2 linked regions of the Homo sapiens genome follow. The protein of the gene in region 2 purifies or fractionates together with the protein of the main gene of each other region. This does not show direct contact. Each region holds a gene or a part of one and is shown on either strand. Other genes may lie near its edges. The genes, in order: BTBD9 and CBR3.

Region 1 (7,249 bases), on a different chromosome or scaffold from region 2:
CCCTCATGTTCAGCGCATGGAGCCTTGGGCCCCACATGCACCAGCGGAGTTGCTGGAGACTCAGGCCCAGTTGTGGGGTCACAGGAGAGGGCACTGGATCCCAGACGGCAGGGCCTGCAACACTGAGTTCACACACCCAGGACTCGAGATTGGGGCCAGGGAGAGCGGCAGCGCCTGCAAGGGGCCGCCTCCTGGCTCACTGGTTCCCTTCCCCGCATCTCCCCTGGGAAGCAAGATAAATGGGGGAAGTTGCTACCAAATACTCACGGGCTCATCAGGTAGAAGAAGCAAGACATGAGGAAGAAAGCAGCTGGGGCTAAGCTCAGAGGAGGAGAAATGACAAGGGAAGGGGACTGGGTTCAAGGTGGTGTTTCCTAACCCCCCAAAAATGGCATCGAATAGGCCATGGGGTGGGGTGGAGAGAGTGCCACAGGAGGTGGGAGGGAGCTGGACAGCCCCTCCACCCTGAGGGAAGGCCCTCAGAGCCGGTGACAGTGCTGGCCCAAATCCGCTGGATCTGCCCACGCCGCCGCCCTGGAGCAAGCCGGCCTCTCTGTGCCTGCTTTGCTCCAGGGCTGTCTGCCTCCCTCCACAAGGCAGAGGAAGCGAGCGGGGGCCTGGGTGGACACCCCTGAGTGCCTGGGCCTGCAGAGAGGGCCGGATGGCAGTGTCCATATGAGGGCACTGGGGCAGAGGGGCTGACCCTGGCCTGGGCCCCCTGCTTGTCCCTGGGCATCGAGAGGGGTTGCTGCAGAGAGTGACGACTCGAATACAGCACAAGTCACCACTTTATTTCTAAGAGAAAACCTGCATTTTCACACACATGGACTCAGGGGTTTCGAACACACGGTTTGTACATCTGCCCGCTTAGGTTGCTCTGCAAAATGAGGAAGAAGCCGCATCGTGCTCACAAATAATACACATTCCACATAGCAGCACAGCCTTTTGGGCATCTTTGGAGTTTTAGACGGAGCTTCTGGAGTCACAGAGCCATTCCCAACCCAGGCCTGGCATGGTCCCTGCCCTTGCATCAGAGTGGCCTGGGAGGTACACACATCTTTACAGGCCCAGAAACGCCAAAGGCTGGGAGGCTCTTGTTCTCTGGTGAATCCGGATTCAAGACAGGCTTCGCAAAAGCAGCTCTTGGGCCGAGCTCCAGGCCTAGCCCTGAGGACCCCTGGCCTCCTGGCGCCCCTCCAGAGTCTCACGCTTCTCCAGGCACTGGGGGGTGGGGAAGGGTGGCCTCAGGGACATAAGGACCAGGGAGCGTGTGATGGAGAGATTTCTCACTGTTCTTCTGAGGGGGTGCAGCCTCTCTGAAGGTCACTGTGGAGGGCGCACCAAGGCCTGGAGAGCCTTGGGGAGAGATCAGGCCCCACAGACCTGGAAGCTCTGCCCCAGTATCCCCCAGCCTGGGCGGCCGGGCTGTGCTCCCTGAGGACCTTACTGGCAGCACCCTGCCCTGCTGACCCTGGAAGCAGCTGATTGAGGGGCCTGGGAAGACCCCATGGCCTCCAGCAGGTCTCAGAATGACTCCTGTAGTGGCTAGGACTAGGGCACTGGCCGCACCCTCAGGCCCAGGTGGGAAGTGTGGGCTGGGGGTAAACCCAGCAACTCAGGACTAGCAGCAGCCATCAGGGGCTGTGGTGCAGGAGCAGCCACCAGGGCAGCACCAGGAGGCAAAGGCCCTGAGGGAGATGAGCTGGTGCCGTCCCCTCCCAATTCCGCTCAGATGGGCACCCTCGCCTTCCTGGGACATAAACCCCTGGGGCTCATGTGGTGGGGAGCAATTTGGCAGCAGACGGACTAATATCAACGTCTCCAGTGACCCAGGGCCCAGTCCCTGCCCTGAAGGCTGCTCAGCCCCTCCAGCCCCCGTCCCGCCTCGCAACGCCTCCTCTGCGCCAGGGCCAGGGCCTCTCCCCCTAGTGGAGCGACTGTCCACTGGCTTTCAAAGGCGGCACTCCTCAGCTGTCACAGCCGCAGTGACAGCCTTGGGGAGGCTGAGGGGGCTCTGTCAACCAGGGGACACTAGTGGGGACAGGTGTGTAGCTCCTGGCTGCAGGGCCTCCTCCACCCCCCCTCCCCCCCGCCCATTCAGGGCTATAAATACTCACGGACGCAAATGGTAAATGCTCCCAGACATTTATCATAAATTACAGGTGGATGATTGTGAGTCTTCAGGCCATGAGGCCTCTTGGGGACTATTTCAGTTCTTTAAAAAAAAGAAGACACGAAGCTGATGGGGCAGGAGGGCCGTTCAGCCTGGCTTCTGACTGGAAGCTCGCTGGGTGCAGCAGACTGGCCTGGGAGATGCCAGGGTGCTGGGTGGGTTGGAGGCTGGGCCAGGGAGCACCGTGACCAGTGGTGGTCACAGAGGACGTGAACGATGACGTGGGCCCAGGTCGGAAGCAGCCAGAGCCAGATGAAGGGCACCTGGCCCCTTCCGCGAGGTTGGAGCATTATGCCAGGAACAGGTGTTCCCTGTACACTTTTTTAAGTGAGTAAAGAGAACAGTGATTTTCAAACAATGGTGTGTCGGGTGGGGCGGCTCTTCCATGCACCTGTCCCCTGCCTCTGCATGAGCCCAGCAGAAAATCCTAGCTGGAAGGCCGTGGGGCTTGGGGCCAGCACTGTGCAAAGGATGGGTGAGCACGCTGTCCCTCGGAGCGTCCTCAGTGGTGCAGCCAAGAGCCAGGAAGGGCACAGCCTCTTTCCTCCTCCCTGATGGAAGCCAGAGACCTACCACAAACAAAGACCTGCTGCCTCCGCCCCTCCTCCCTCCGCCTCGCCTCTGCAACCGGTCTTTCCTCCAAGCAAACCTTTTCCGCGCCCTTCACCATTCACTCTGCAAATGACCAGGGCCTCCAAATCCCGTCCAGCCCCAGGTATGACTGGATCCGTGTCAGCGAGAGAGATGGGGGCATTCCAGTTGTCCTGCATGCCATTTAAACCTTGCCCTTCCCTCTCTTCTGGAAACTCTGAGCAAACACCAGGCACTAGGACAACTTCTAATTTAATATTATAATAATAAAAGCCACGGTGGCACAGAACCATGAACTGCACTTTAAATTCCTAACTGAACTCCTGCCGGGGCTGTTGTCAGGAAAAATATGCAGAATCAATGGCTGCAGCTGCCAAAACAAATGGAGTATGCCCACCTCTGCCACGGCATCGCTGCAGACCTGCCCTGCCCGGGCCGTGCCCGACCTGGGCATCGCTCGGAGGAGCTGGTCACCACATAGAAGGTAAGATTAAAATAATAACACCGACAAGCAAGCACTAATGAGGAAAAACTCCTGGAAGGAAGCAAATTTAATTTTCTTTTCCTCTTTGACACCTTTCTTCCCTGTCCAAAGGGAGGTTCTTAATTGAAGTCTGTGAGGGGAGCGCTCCATCTCTTTATCACCAAGTGGCCTCAGTACACAGAACGCTCGCTTTTTATTGTAGATTATACCTTCCTTTTCCCCCTTGGCTCTGGAAAGGATAAGTGATTACAATTTTGTTATCTTCTAAATTAAAAAGAAGGTGAAGTTGACTGGGCTGGAGCCATCTGCACAGCAGTTTGACAACTGGGGCGACAGCATAATACTGGGCAATTTTTTGCACAATTCAAAAGCTTTTTTTCTCTTTTTTGCCAAGGAATCAGTTTAACAAACATCCTACTCTTGCTGAAAATAATTTCTTTTCCCAACTCTTCTAGGAATAAAACACTTTTAATGTATTTGTCAGGAATCGACACTTCATTTAATAGGATTTAAAAAGTGACAATTTAAAGAGCAATTGAGAAGAGTCCCACATCCATCATGGCTTGTGCTTCTAACTAAAATCAAAGGAATGAAAGCAGAAAAAGCACTGAGAAAATGGTAAAACGGGTGTGTGTGTGTGTGTGTGTGTGTGTGTGTGTGTGTGTGTGTGTGTGTGAGAGGGAGAGACGGTGGGGGCGGGGGGTGGTTCATAGCTGCTTCAAGTCCAAAGTGCTCACAACGGCTCCTGTGAGACTGCCCTGCTGGGTGCTGGCTGCATGGACACAGCTGCTGCCCAGCACACACCCTACCTGCCCTACACTCTCAGTCCACCCCAAATGACCCTCCCCAGAGCTGCCAGAAGGTGACTTTGAAGGCTTTTTTCCCCAAAAGCTCCAATGAAGTTGCCTTTCTACTCTCAAAAAAAAAAAAAAAAAAAAAAAAAAAAAAAAAAAATAATAATAATAATAATAATAATAATAATGAAAAGTGAAGGGTGGGGGTGCTGGCCACCTCCCATTTCTTTGCCTGGGTGGTGGTGACCATGGCGCCCTTGTGTCCTTTCCATTGGTTACTGAGGACCATTGCCCTCATGGGCCCAGGCCACAGGCACCCACCTGTCAGCCTCACCTGCCACCTCTCTCCATGTTGGCTTGTTGCCCCTGGGGCTGGCCTGGGCATGGGGGAGCTTATCTCCCCGACCAGGGGCTTGGCCATGTCTCCTTCACAACCCCCGCTCCCCACGGACTGAGCCTCCACTCTCTGCTGGGCTGAGGGCTCTGTGGTGCCCAGGAGCCCTCCCAGCCACGTGCCAGCCCATCCCATCATCAGCACTTGCTTTTAGCTTCAAGTGTTTAGGTCGCTTTGGTCCTGGTGGCCCAGGGGAGAAGTGCTCTGTAGGACCAGCCAGGCTCTGGGGAACTCCAGGCTGCCCGGGGACTTTCTGGTAGCCACTCACTTGTCCCTGTTCCCTGGAGATGAGGTCCTTGCCCTGGTGTGTGGTGTGACACACCTTGACTTGGCCTCCAGGCCCAGCTGGACACACGAAAAGAGTTCCTGCCCCAGTCAGAAGGCCCCTCAGGGAAGGGCAGTACCCCTCCAGCCTGGGAAAGGAGGTGAACCCGTGTCCTTTTGGAGTCCAGGGCAGGCTCCCAGCAAAGCGAGGGGGAGGCGAGCTGGCAGCGCGGCTGTGAGGGAATGAGACTTTGCCATCAGTCCTCACCAATGACATCTACTGTTAGTGCCACCCCATCGTCCCCATACTTCTCTTTATCTGATGATAAGGGGCATCTTTAAAGTGCTAGAAGACAGGAGGGACAGAGATCTGGAAGGGCATGCCCCGAAGGAAAGAACCGCCACAGGCCAGGGAGCTGCAGATGTGGGTCTAGGGCCGAGGCTTTGCAGCGTATTCCTTTTCAGATGCGAGGCCGAGCTGCCAAGCTGCTATCTCGTTCCCGGAGCACAGGAGGGCTCTGCGTGCTCTGTGGGCAGGGGACTGGAGGGTTGCAGATGCAGGGCCGGGCAGCTCCTCCAGCACCCCCACCAGCCCACCCTCTCTTCCCAAGGTCAGCAGCATGCTGCTTCAGGCCAAGGGCCTCTGGGCAGGTGATGCCCATGTTTAAAAAGAAGCATGTGAATGGCTCATTTCAAAATGTTTGAACTCTGCCCTTGATATGACTGTCTGGCTCCTTTGTCCCCATCTGGGTAGAAAACACACTGGGGAAGGAAGTGCTGTGTGTGCAGGAGCTCTCTGGCTAATTGGCAACCCGGGGCTGGGGGCTGACAGAGTCAGCAACCATGCTGGAGGGCCCCCCACTGTGAGCGGGCGCCCACCGTTCCTTACAGGAGCCTCCTCCCATTATGAAATGCCTGGCATCCCAGGAGTGTTCCACTCTCCCACACAACAGGGAAGTGGCAGAGATCAGAGCTGAGGGGATAGGAAGCAGCTCAGCCCTGCAGCTGGAGCTACCGGGGAGGATGGAGAGCTGCAGACCCTGGCTTCTCCTCAGGAACGTGTCCACCCTGCCCCGGTAGCCCTCTGATGTCTGCCATCCTGTGTTCACACGGAAAGACAGTCTTCCAATTTAATCACGCAGTTTGATGCTACCCTACTATTTCCATATGGACAAATCACTCAAAATCAAGTTAAACTAGGAGGAAGCGGCTGACCCGTTGGCTCTTTCTAGAGCGCAGCTGATATGTCTTTGACACACCTGAAAGGAAACTCCCACGCCCTCACCCTCCTTTGATCAGGGTTGCAGGTTGGCGCCGAAGACCCAAGGACTGCAGTGCTGCTCACGTGCCATGCCGTCCTGGGGAGACTCCCAGGCTGATGCTGATGGCGACAGAGGCCGGAGCTCTGGGGACAGCGGAGGGGCAGGCAATGTTGTGCGCAGTTACCCAGGGCAGGCAGCACTGGAATGGAAATCACTAAGTAGGAGACGGAGCCACATCAAGCCACCATCGTCAAATGAGGTCCTTTTGATGAGGATTAGGAGAAAAGCTTCTTGGAACTGCTATTTTTCAGTCCCCAGTTGAGTACTGTGGTGTGGGGGAAGCACGGAGTCCCAGTTCTGCGTTCCTGACGCTGATGGGCAGGTGGCTGCCTCTCCAATGCTTCGATAAACACAACTGGAGGGGCAGCTAAGCCACGGCAGTCCCCGGCAGGTTTGGCCACGCCAGAACTCGGTATATGTTTATCTACATGGACTTCGGAACAGTGAATTAGCAGCGGGCATAGTAACTATTTCCTTGTCAGCCTCCCAAGCTTAAAGGCTGGATCCATGTCAGGAATGACAGGTGAGTAACTCAGCCACACGAGTGACTATTAACTCCAGTGTCCACAGGTTGATTTGCTTGTGTGCATTTGTGGCACTTCCTCTGTGGCCCAAGTGCCAGGATGAGCTGCATCCGTGTCTCATTTAGGAGACATGCACGATGGGTCTCTGTCCCCGCAAGCTGAACCGTTCAAAACCAAGGAAGGAAAATTATAGCATCAAAAGGGATTAAAACTAGTGATTTGCTGTTTGAGCATTTCAAATAGATCCGGAACACCTATGATTCACTGAGTGGAGAATAACTAAAACAAATAAAAAATCATTTAGTTGCCAGGGCAATGTATTCCAGCAGAATGAACACTCTATGGAGGCCCATTCCTAAAGGGTGCCTCCAGGTAGCAAAGGCCCAATGGCTTTCTCCTCCGCCTGAGTGTTTGCGTGCCATTTTTGTATTCCAACACAGGCCTGTCTATGACTTCCTCCTGTTCCCTGCGCCTGGGCTAGATTAGAGAGGTAGGGTGTTAATGGTGGACTTGATGAAGATTGAAGACCCATTTTCTCCCCCTTGAGACCTGCCTGATTTGGATAAATTGAGAAGAACAAAGCAGCCCCTTTCTGTCCTTGGGAGAAAACCTGTTCGGTGTCTGCTTTTGCAGCTAGGTCGGCTCCTCCCTGGAAAGGGGCAGAGGTGGGGGCAGTCAACAGAGACCCCTGCTCAGGGAGGAG
Region 2 (7,131 bases):
TTGGAGTGAGAAGCCAAACACTGTGGGAAAATGAAGCAATTTTCTATTTTTCCCCCTTCAGAGAAATAGCACCCCTGAGTGATTTCTGCAGGGTAGCCCTGCTCCGGGAAGCCTGTAGCCCACTTCTTACTGAGGGATGCAACCCGACTGTCCACACGTTGGGCTTACCATGAGGTTTCATTATCGGCAGTAACTCGTTGCACATGTTTCTAGTGGCAAAAAAATTTGTCTTCAGTGTCATCTCAGCTTTAATGTCAAAGGGCATTGGATCATCACCTTTCAAAAAGAGAAAGAAACAAAAAGAAAGTCATATTTTTCCCCCTGAAACTCACATGACAAAGTGGATCCTAACTCCTAACAACTAAAGGAAAAACAAGTTAATTTTAAAACAATTTTTAAGAACGAGGTCGGTGATTCTCAAACTTTAGTCTGCATCCGAATCACTTGTAGAGCCTGTTAAAACACAGCTTCCTGGGCCTCACCATTGGAGTTTCTGATTGCAAAGGGCTGGAGTAAGGGCTCCAGAATTTGCATTTTCTTTCCTTCCTTCCTTCCTTCCTTCCTTCCTTCCTTCCTTCCTTCCTTCCTTCCTTCCTTTCTTTCTTTTCTTTTCTTTCTTTCTTTCTCTTTCTTTTCTTCCTCTGTCACCCAGGCTGGAGTGCAGTGGCGCGATCTCGGCTCACTGCAACCTCCACCTCCTGGGTTCAAGTGATTCTCCTGCCTCAGCCTCTGGAGTAGCTGGGATTACAGGCACATGCCACCACACCCAGCTAATTTTTTTACTTTTTGCAGAGACAGGGTTTCGCCATGTTGGCCAGGCTGGTCCCCAACTCCTGACCTCATGTGATCCACCCGCCTCGGCTTCCCAAAGTGCTGGGATTACAGGCGTGAGCCATCGCACCTGGCCTGAGTTTGCATTTCTAGGTTCCCAGATGATGTGACAGCTACTGGTCTCCAGCCACACCTTGAGAACACTTGGCTTTGACTACCACTTCTTAAACTTAAAGGTGCGTAGGAGGGAGCTGGGGATTCTGTTGAAATGCAGATTTTTTTTTTTTTTTTTTTTTTTTTTTGAGGCAGAGTCTCGCTCTGTCGCCCAGGCTGCAGTGCAGGGGTGCAATCTCCTCTTCCTGCAACCTCTGCCTCCTGGGTTCAAGCGGTTCTTGTGCCTGAGCCTCCCGAGTAGCTGGGATTACAGGAGTGAGCCACCATGCCCAGCTAATTTTTGTATTTTTAGTAGAGTTGGTGTTTCACCATGTTTCCCGGGCTGGTCTTGAACTCCTGACCTCAGGTTATCTGCCTGCCTCAGCCTCCCAAAGTGCTGGGATTACAGGCATGAGCCACCGCGCCCAGCGGAAACGCAGATTTTGATTCAGCAGGTGTGGGGCAAGGCGGGAGATTCTGCCTTGCCATGAGCGCCCAGGTTTGCAGCTGCTGGTGGTCCATTCCCCATACCTTGAAAGGCAAGGGGAAGTCCCTCCGCCTGTCGTCCAGGAAGCCGGGTATTTATCCACCAATCTCTCAGCCCATGGCTGAGGGCTGCATTAGGGGGTGTTAATCCCCACTCCTGCACCCCAGCTCTCAGAAAGCCGGCAGGCTGAGTTGCCCGTGCGGGTCAAAGAAAGTCTCAGGTCCCCATGCACAACAATGCGGAGTGCCTAGGGCCAAAGGGAGGGGTGGAGACTTCTGCTCCCCCATCCTTCATTTCACTCCCTCTTAGGCTTTTTTTCCCCACTAGGTTGGAGGTGAAGCCGGCCTGTTTATTTCTCCGTAGTAACTTTTTTTTTTTTTTCATACGGAGTCTCGCTCTGTCTCCCAGTCTGGAGTGCAGTGGCGCGATCTCGGCTCACTGCCTCCCAGGTTCAAGCGTTTCTCCTGCCTCGGCCTCCCAAAGTGCTGGCATTACAGGCGTGAGCCACTGCGCCCTCCTGTAATTTTCTTCAGTAGTAGTTAGAATAAGCAATCTCTTGATCCCCGCCCCTCTCCTTAAGGAAGATGCTTTTAAGACCACACGCACGTATTTTATAACAAACATAAGCTCCCCGGGCGGGGGTGGGGGAACGAGAAGGCTCGCTTCCTTTTTGCCAGAGCCTATCAAAGCTCTGCATTACACAAATTGTCAAGTCCACCAAGGGCAAGCGCGCGCTAATCCTGTTTTAGCGATTCATTTCCTTTCCCGAGCAAATGCCTCCGGGCATCTATGAATGCGCCCTTTCAAGGAAAGCGAAAGCCCAAAGCGAGCGGAGACCGTTTCTTTGCAGAGAAAATGTTTCTCGCGTTGGAAGGAAAGCTGATGAACTCTAGCAGGGCGTTGCCCCCTCCCAGGAGGCCAGTTTTCCTGCACACAACAGCGGCTGACAGTTCGGGGAGGGCCCCGGGCCGCGCACAGGCCCTCACAGGCCGGCGGGCGGGGCGCGCTGTTTGTCGCCCGGGCCCGCCTGGGGCTCAGCGAATCACGGAAAGCGAAAACCGCCTCGCGGGAGGCGTGGGCTGAGCGCATCCCTAGGGGTCGGCGCCACCCTCCTCGGTCACTCAAGTGGACGGGTGGGGAGCCTGCGGCTGGCCACCTCCGCACCCTCGGAGCGCTCCAGGGGGCCCCAACCCAAGCCCTGCACCTACTCTTGAAGGCGACGGCCGCGTTGTTGACCAGTACGTTGAGCCCCCCGTACTCCTTGCGCAGGAAGTCGCGCAGGGCGCGGATGCTCTGCAAGTCGTCGATGTCCAGTTGGTGGAAGCGCGGGCTCAGGCCCTCCGCCTGCAGCTGCTGCACGGCCGCCTGGCCCCGCGCCACGTCCCGCGCGGTGAGCACCACATCCCCAGAGAACTGTCGGCACAGTTCGCGCGCGATGGCCAAGCCGATGCCCCTGTTGGCCCCGGTCACCAGCGCCACGCGGCTGCAGGACGACATGGCTGAGCGGGGAGCGCGGGGCACCTGCGTGGAGGGCGGACCGGGCTTCGGACCACCTGGGGCGCGCCCCGAGGAGCCCAGCTAGTGTCAATGCCGCCGCGCAGACTAAGTTCTGGGATCCAGTGCTGCGAGTCTTAAAGAAAAAGGCCCCGGCTCCGGTCCCTCCCCTCCGAGGAGGGGCCGTCTGTGCCCTCTGTTCCAACTCCCGGGCCCGCCCCCTGCCCACGCTGCGCCCTTCAGGATCCGGGCTCTGAGCCGCGGGGTGATCTGCGAGGTGTCCGAAGCCAAATCGGACCTTGATGGGTCAGTCGGGGGCTCCAGATTCTTGGCAACTGGACTGAAGAAATTATTTTGGGAAAACCCCAAAGTGAGAAAAACAAGTGCTGAGTAATTTTCTTGGGTGTGCGCCCATCATGCACTGCAAAATGCGAATGTTTGCTTTTTCCTAAGATGCAGTGACTTACTTAGACACAGTAACTGCTTCTCTGGACATAGGTTGCCTTGCTTGCTTAAAAGGAACTCAAGAGAGGGAACTAGATGCCCTGTGAGCGCACTTAGCAGGTGTGGGCAGGCGACATCGCTCTGGGATTCCCAGTGAATGTGCCCCCAAGTGGGAGGGAATGTTTTTATTTAATCCTACCTAACTCCTACGGGTGCTAAAAGTGTCTGCATTTAGGTTTGTCCAGGGAGGATATAGATCTATAAAGATCTGGATTGATCATATGTTCTCACAGATCTGTGTACCGGCAAAGAAAGTTAAACCAAATTCCCAAAGGTGTGTCAAGCTGTGGGCACAAAATTAGAGTCTCATCCATCGTCTTCAGTGTAAACTGAGTTGTTTGATCAGTGACTTTGAGATTTGGGGAGAACCATGACATCATCACGACTCAGCCTTTTCCATGCAGAGCTGGCTAACCCGCCTGTGTCTCTGTTACTCTGACTCTACCTTCTCTCTCAAGTCCTTACTTGAGGTTCCGGAGGTGGGCCCCTGCTGTGATCTCCTACTGTGCCTCCCCCAGTATTTCCTTCTTTTTTCTCCTAAAGATCATTTGGTCCGGGCGCGGTGGCTCACACCTGTAATCCCAGCACTTTGGGAGGCTGAGGCGGGTGGATTACGCGGTCAGGAGTTCAAGACCAGCCTGACCAACATGGTGAAACCCCCATCTCTACTAAAAATACAAAAATTACCTGGGTGTGGTGGCACGTGCCTGTAATCCCAGCTACTTAGGAGGCTGAGGCAGGAGAACTGCTTGAACCCGGGAGGCGGAGGTTGCAGTAAACCGAGATTGCACCACTGCACTCCAACCTGTGCAACAGAGTGAGACTTTTCAAAAAAAAAAAAAAAGATCATTTGGAACCTTGTTTTAAGGATATGGGGCTATTTAGGCTTTCTATTTCTGTTTTTTTTTTTTTTTTTTTTTTTTTTAATAGGGTCTTCTCTGTCGCCCAGGCTGGAGTGCAGTGCTGCAGTCGTGGCTCACTGTAGCGTCAGTCTCCTGAGCTCAGGTGATCCTCCCCTTTAGCCTCCCTAGTAGCTGGGACTACAAGTGTGCCACAGTCATGCCTGGATAATTTTTTTTTTTTTTTTTTTTTTGAGACGGAGTTTTGCTCTGTCACCCAGGCTGGAGTGCAGTGGCACGATCTTGGCTCACTGCAACCTCCGAATCCTGGGTTCCAACGATTCTCCTGCCTCAGGCTCCTGAGTAGCTGGGATTACAGGCGCTGCCACTACACCCAGCTAATTTTTGTATTTTTAGTAGATACAGGGTTTCACCATGTTGGCCAGGCTGGTCTCGAACTCCTGACCTCGTGATCCACCCGCCTTGGCCTCCCAAAGTGCTGGGATTACAGGCGTGAGCCACCACACCCGGCCTGCCTGGATAATTTTTTATTTTATTTTATTTTTATTTGTTTTTAGAGATGGGAGTCTCACTGTGTTGCTCAGACTGGTTGAACTCCTGGGCTACATCGATTCTCCCTCCTTGGCCTCTCAAAGTGCTGGTATTACAGGCTTGTGTCACCGTGCCTGGCCTAGTTCTTCTTGAGTGACCTTAATTTCTGTTTTTCATAATTTTATTTTTTTAAATAAAGCATTGATCCTGTTTTATCATTTGGCAGGAAAACTAGACAATCCACCAGCCCAGGAGGGGACAAGCAGGCTTATTCCTCCTCCTCGTCATCTCTGGCTCCAGCCCCACCCTGGCCCTTGCTGGCATTCTTCCTCTTCACGTGGCTGGGGTTGGCCACCCCAATAGGGAAGCAGAGGGAGAAGTCAATGTGCTTCTGGGAATCCAGGCGGACAGTGAAGAACAGGATATTTACCACCTGCTCACGGACACGGATATGACACTGTTGAATCAGCACATGAGCGTGGCGGATGGACTTAGCCAAGCCAAGCTTGAAGACCTGGGTCTGTAGGAATCTCTAAGAAATCATTGATCTTCAGGCCCAGGATGTAATCCAGCTTCATCTTGCCCTCATCCAGCACCCCAGTGCGGACCAGCCACTGCAGCAGGGCAATGCCTTCGAACAGACGCCGTGGGTCCTTCTCATCAAGCGTCAGCAGCTCCCGGGCGGCCTTATGGATCTTGACCAGGGTAAATTTGACCCTCCAGACCTCACATTTGTTCTGGAGCCCATACTCACCAATCAGCTTTAGCTTTTGGTCGAGATGAGGTTTCTCGAAGGGTCTCTGCAGGGTCACATAAGTTTGGCAACAAACCCAGCTCTGGGCCGCTGGCATGTTGGCTCCACTTGCCCGTCTATGCCTAAGCACAGGCCCTGGTCACTGAGAAAGAGCTCAAATTTTTTATATATTTCATCTAAGGTGTTGATTCTATTGATACCCTTATCCTTTTAACATGCCCTTATCCTTTTAATGTTGGTAATGATGCTACCTGTCATTTCTGAGACTGGTTTGTGTCTTTCGTGTTTTTTTCTGATCTGTCTGGCTAGAGGTTTACCAATTGATTTGATTTTCCTCAAACTTCTGGTTACAATGATTCTCTCTCTCTCTCTTTTCCTGATTATATTAATTTCTGTTCTGATCTTTGTTTCCTTTCTTCTGCTTACTGGATTTTATTTGCTCTTTTTCTGGTTTCTTACTGTAAAGGCAGAAGTCATTGATTTGCATTGATTTGAGACTTCTTTTCTAATGTAGGCAGTAAGTGGTGTAAATTCCCTTTTAGTATGACTTTAGTGGCATCTCACATTGATATGTTTTCAATTTCATTCAGTTTATTTTTATTTATTTTTTAAATTATTTATTTATTTATTTATTTTGAGTTGTGTAGCCCTTTATTAGCAACTAAAATAGAAGGTATCTGTTGTACAACATGGGTAGTAATTGACTATAACTGGAGATTTATTATATTCTAATACAGATCATTTATAAATGCAATTTCTTTATTAAAAAGCTTCCACCTTTTTGTTTGTTTGTGTACAATTTGCAAAACTATTCTGAAAGCGGAATATATGTGCACAAGTCTGCAAAGAGTGCAAATTTAGGATATGGTAAATGCTTTACAAGTTACTTTCAAAAAACTGTCTGCCATAACTGAGCCTTTACATTGTCATCTTTTTTGATCAAAATATTTTGATGCCAGCCTTCCTTCCACTGCCCTAAACTATAAAGCATTTTTTAATGAGTTGAAATTAAGGAAGGACTACACCTACTAGAAAAAAAGAGAAGAAAGTTCTATTAGTTTGAGGTTTCAGAATCCCCCCAAACCAGGACCAGTATCGTGGTAAAGGCTAGGCTGGGAGCCCGGACAGAGTATGAGAATGTGCAGGTGGCATCCCTGAGGATTCAGAGCTTCAGTGGACCGTGAGTGCTCCAGCTGCATAACTCACTGAACTGTCTTGCCAGTTTCTACACTGGCTCGACTGGGCATAATTCAAAAACGAAAAACTCATATTCATTCCATTCTTCTGGAGCTCTGTGATAGCATTTAATAACACCCCAATGGGATGTCTTCCACATATAGTATTATGGTATTTCTTCAAGTAATTGCTAAAAGATACAGGGTCTAATTGTTCTATAATACTCATACCCATTTTATCTAGATGTTCAATGGATCTACAAATCTCCCCCTGGGATTCATCATAGTAACTGTGACGGAACCTTTGACCCCAATGGCAGAAATCAGAAGAAACCACAAAGAGATTACTAGGATCCGCTAGATATTTACTGAAAAGTTCCGAATTCCTGTTCTTTTGACTCA

Evidence for each region.
Region 1: the proteins of CBR3 (region 2) and BTBD9 purify together in Homo sapiens (affinity purification with mass spectrometry; 3 studies listed by BioGRID and IntAct, with this or other methods). This does not show direct contact.

Annotation. Positions count from the first base shown.
Region 1 is NC_000006.12:38,167,681-38,174,929, forward strand, and holds the end of BTBD9 (BTB/POZ domain-containing protein 9), read right to left. Parts: 3' UTR 771-7,249; downstream 1-770.
Region 2 is NC_000021.9:36,130,970-36,138,100, reverse strand, and holds the start of CBR3 (carbonyl reductase [NADPH] 3), read right to left. Parts: upstream 3,023-7,131; 5' UTR 2,909-3,022; coding exon 2,620-2,908; intron 277-2,619; coding exon 169-276; intron 1-168. UniProt on the Homo sapiens protein: Catalyzes the NADPH-dependent reduction of carbonyl compounds to their corresponding alcohols. Has low NADPH-dependent oxidoreductase activity.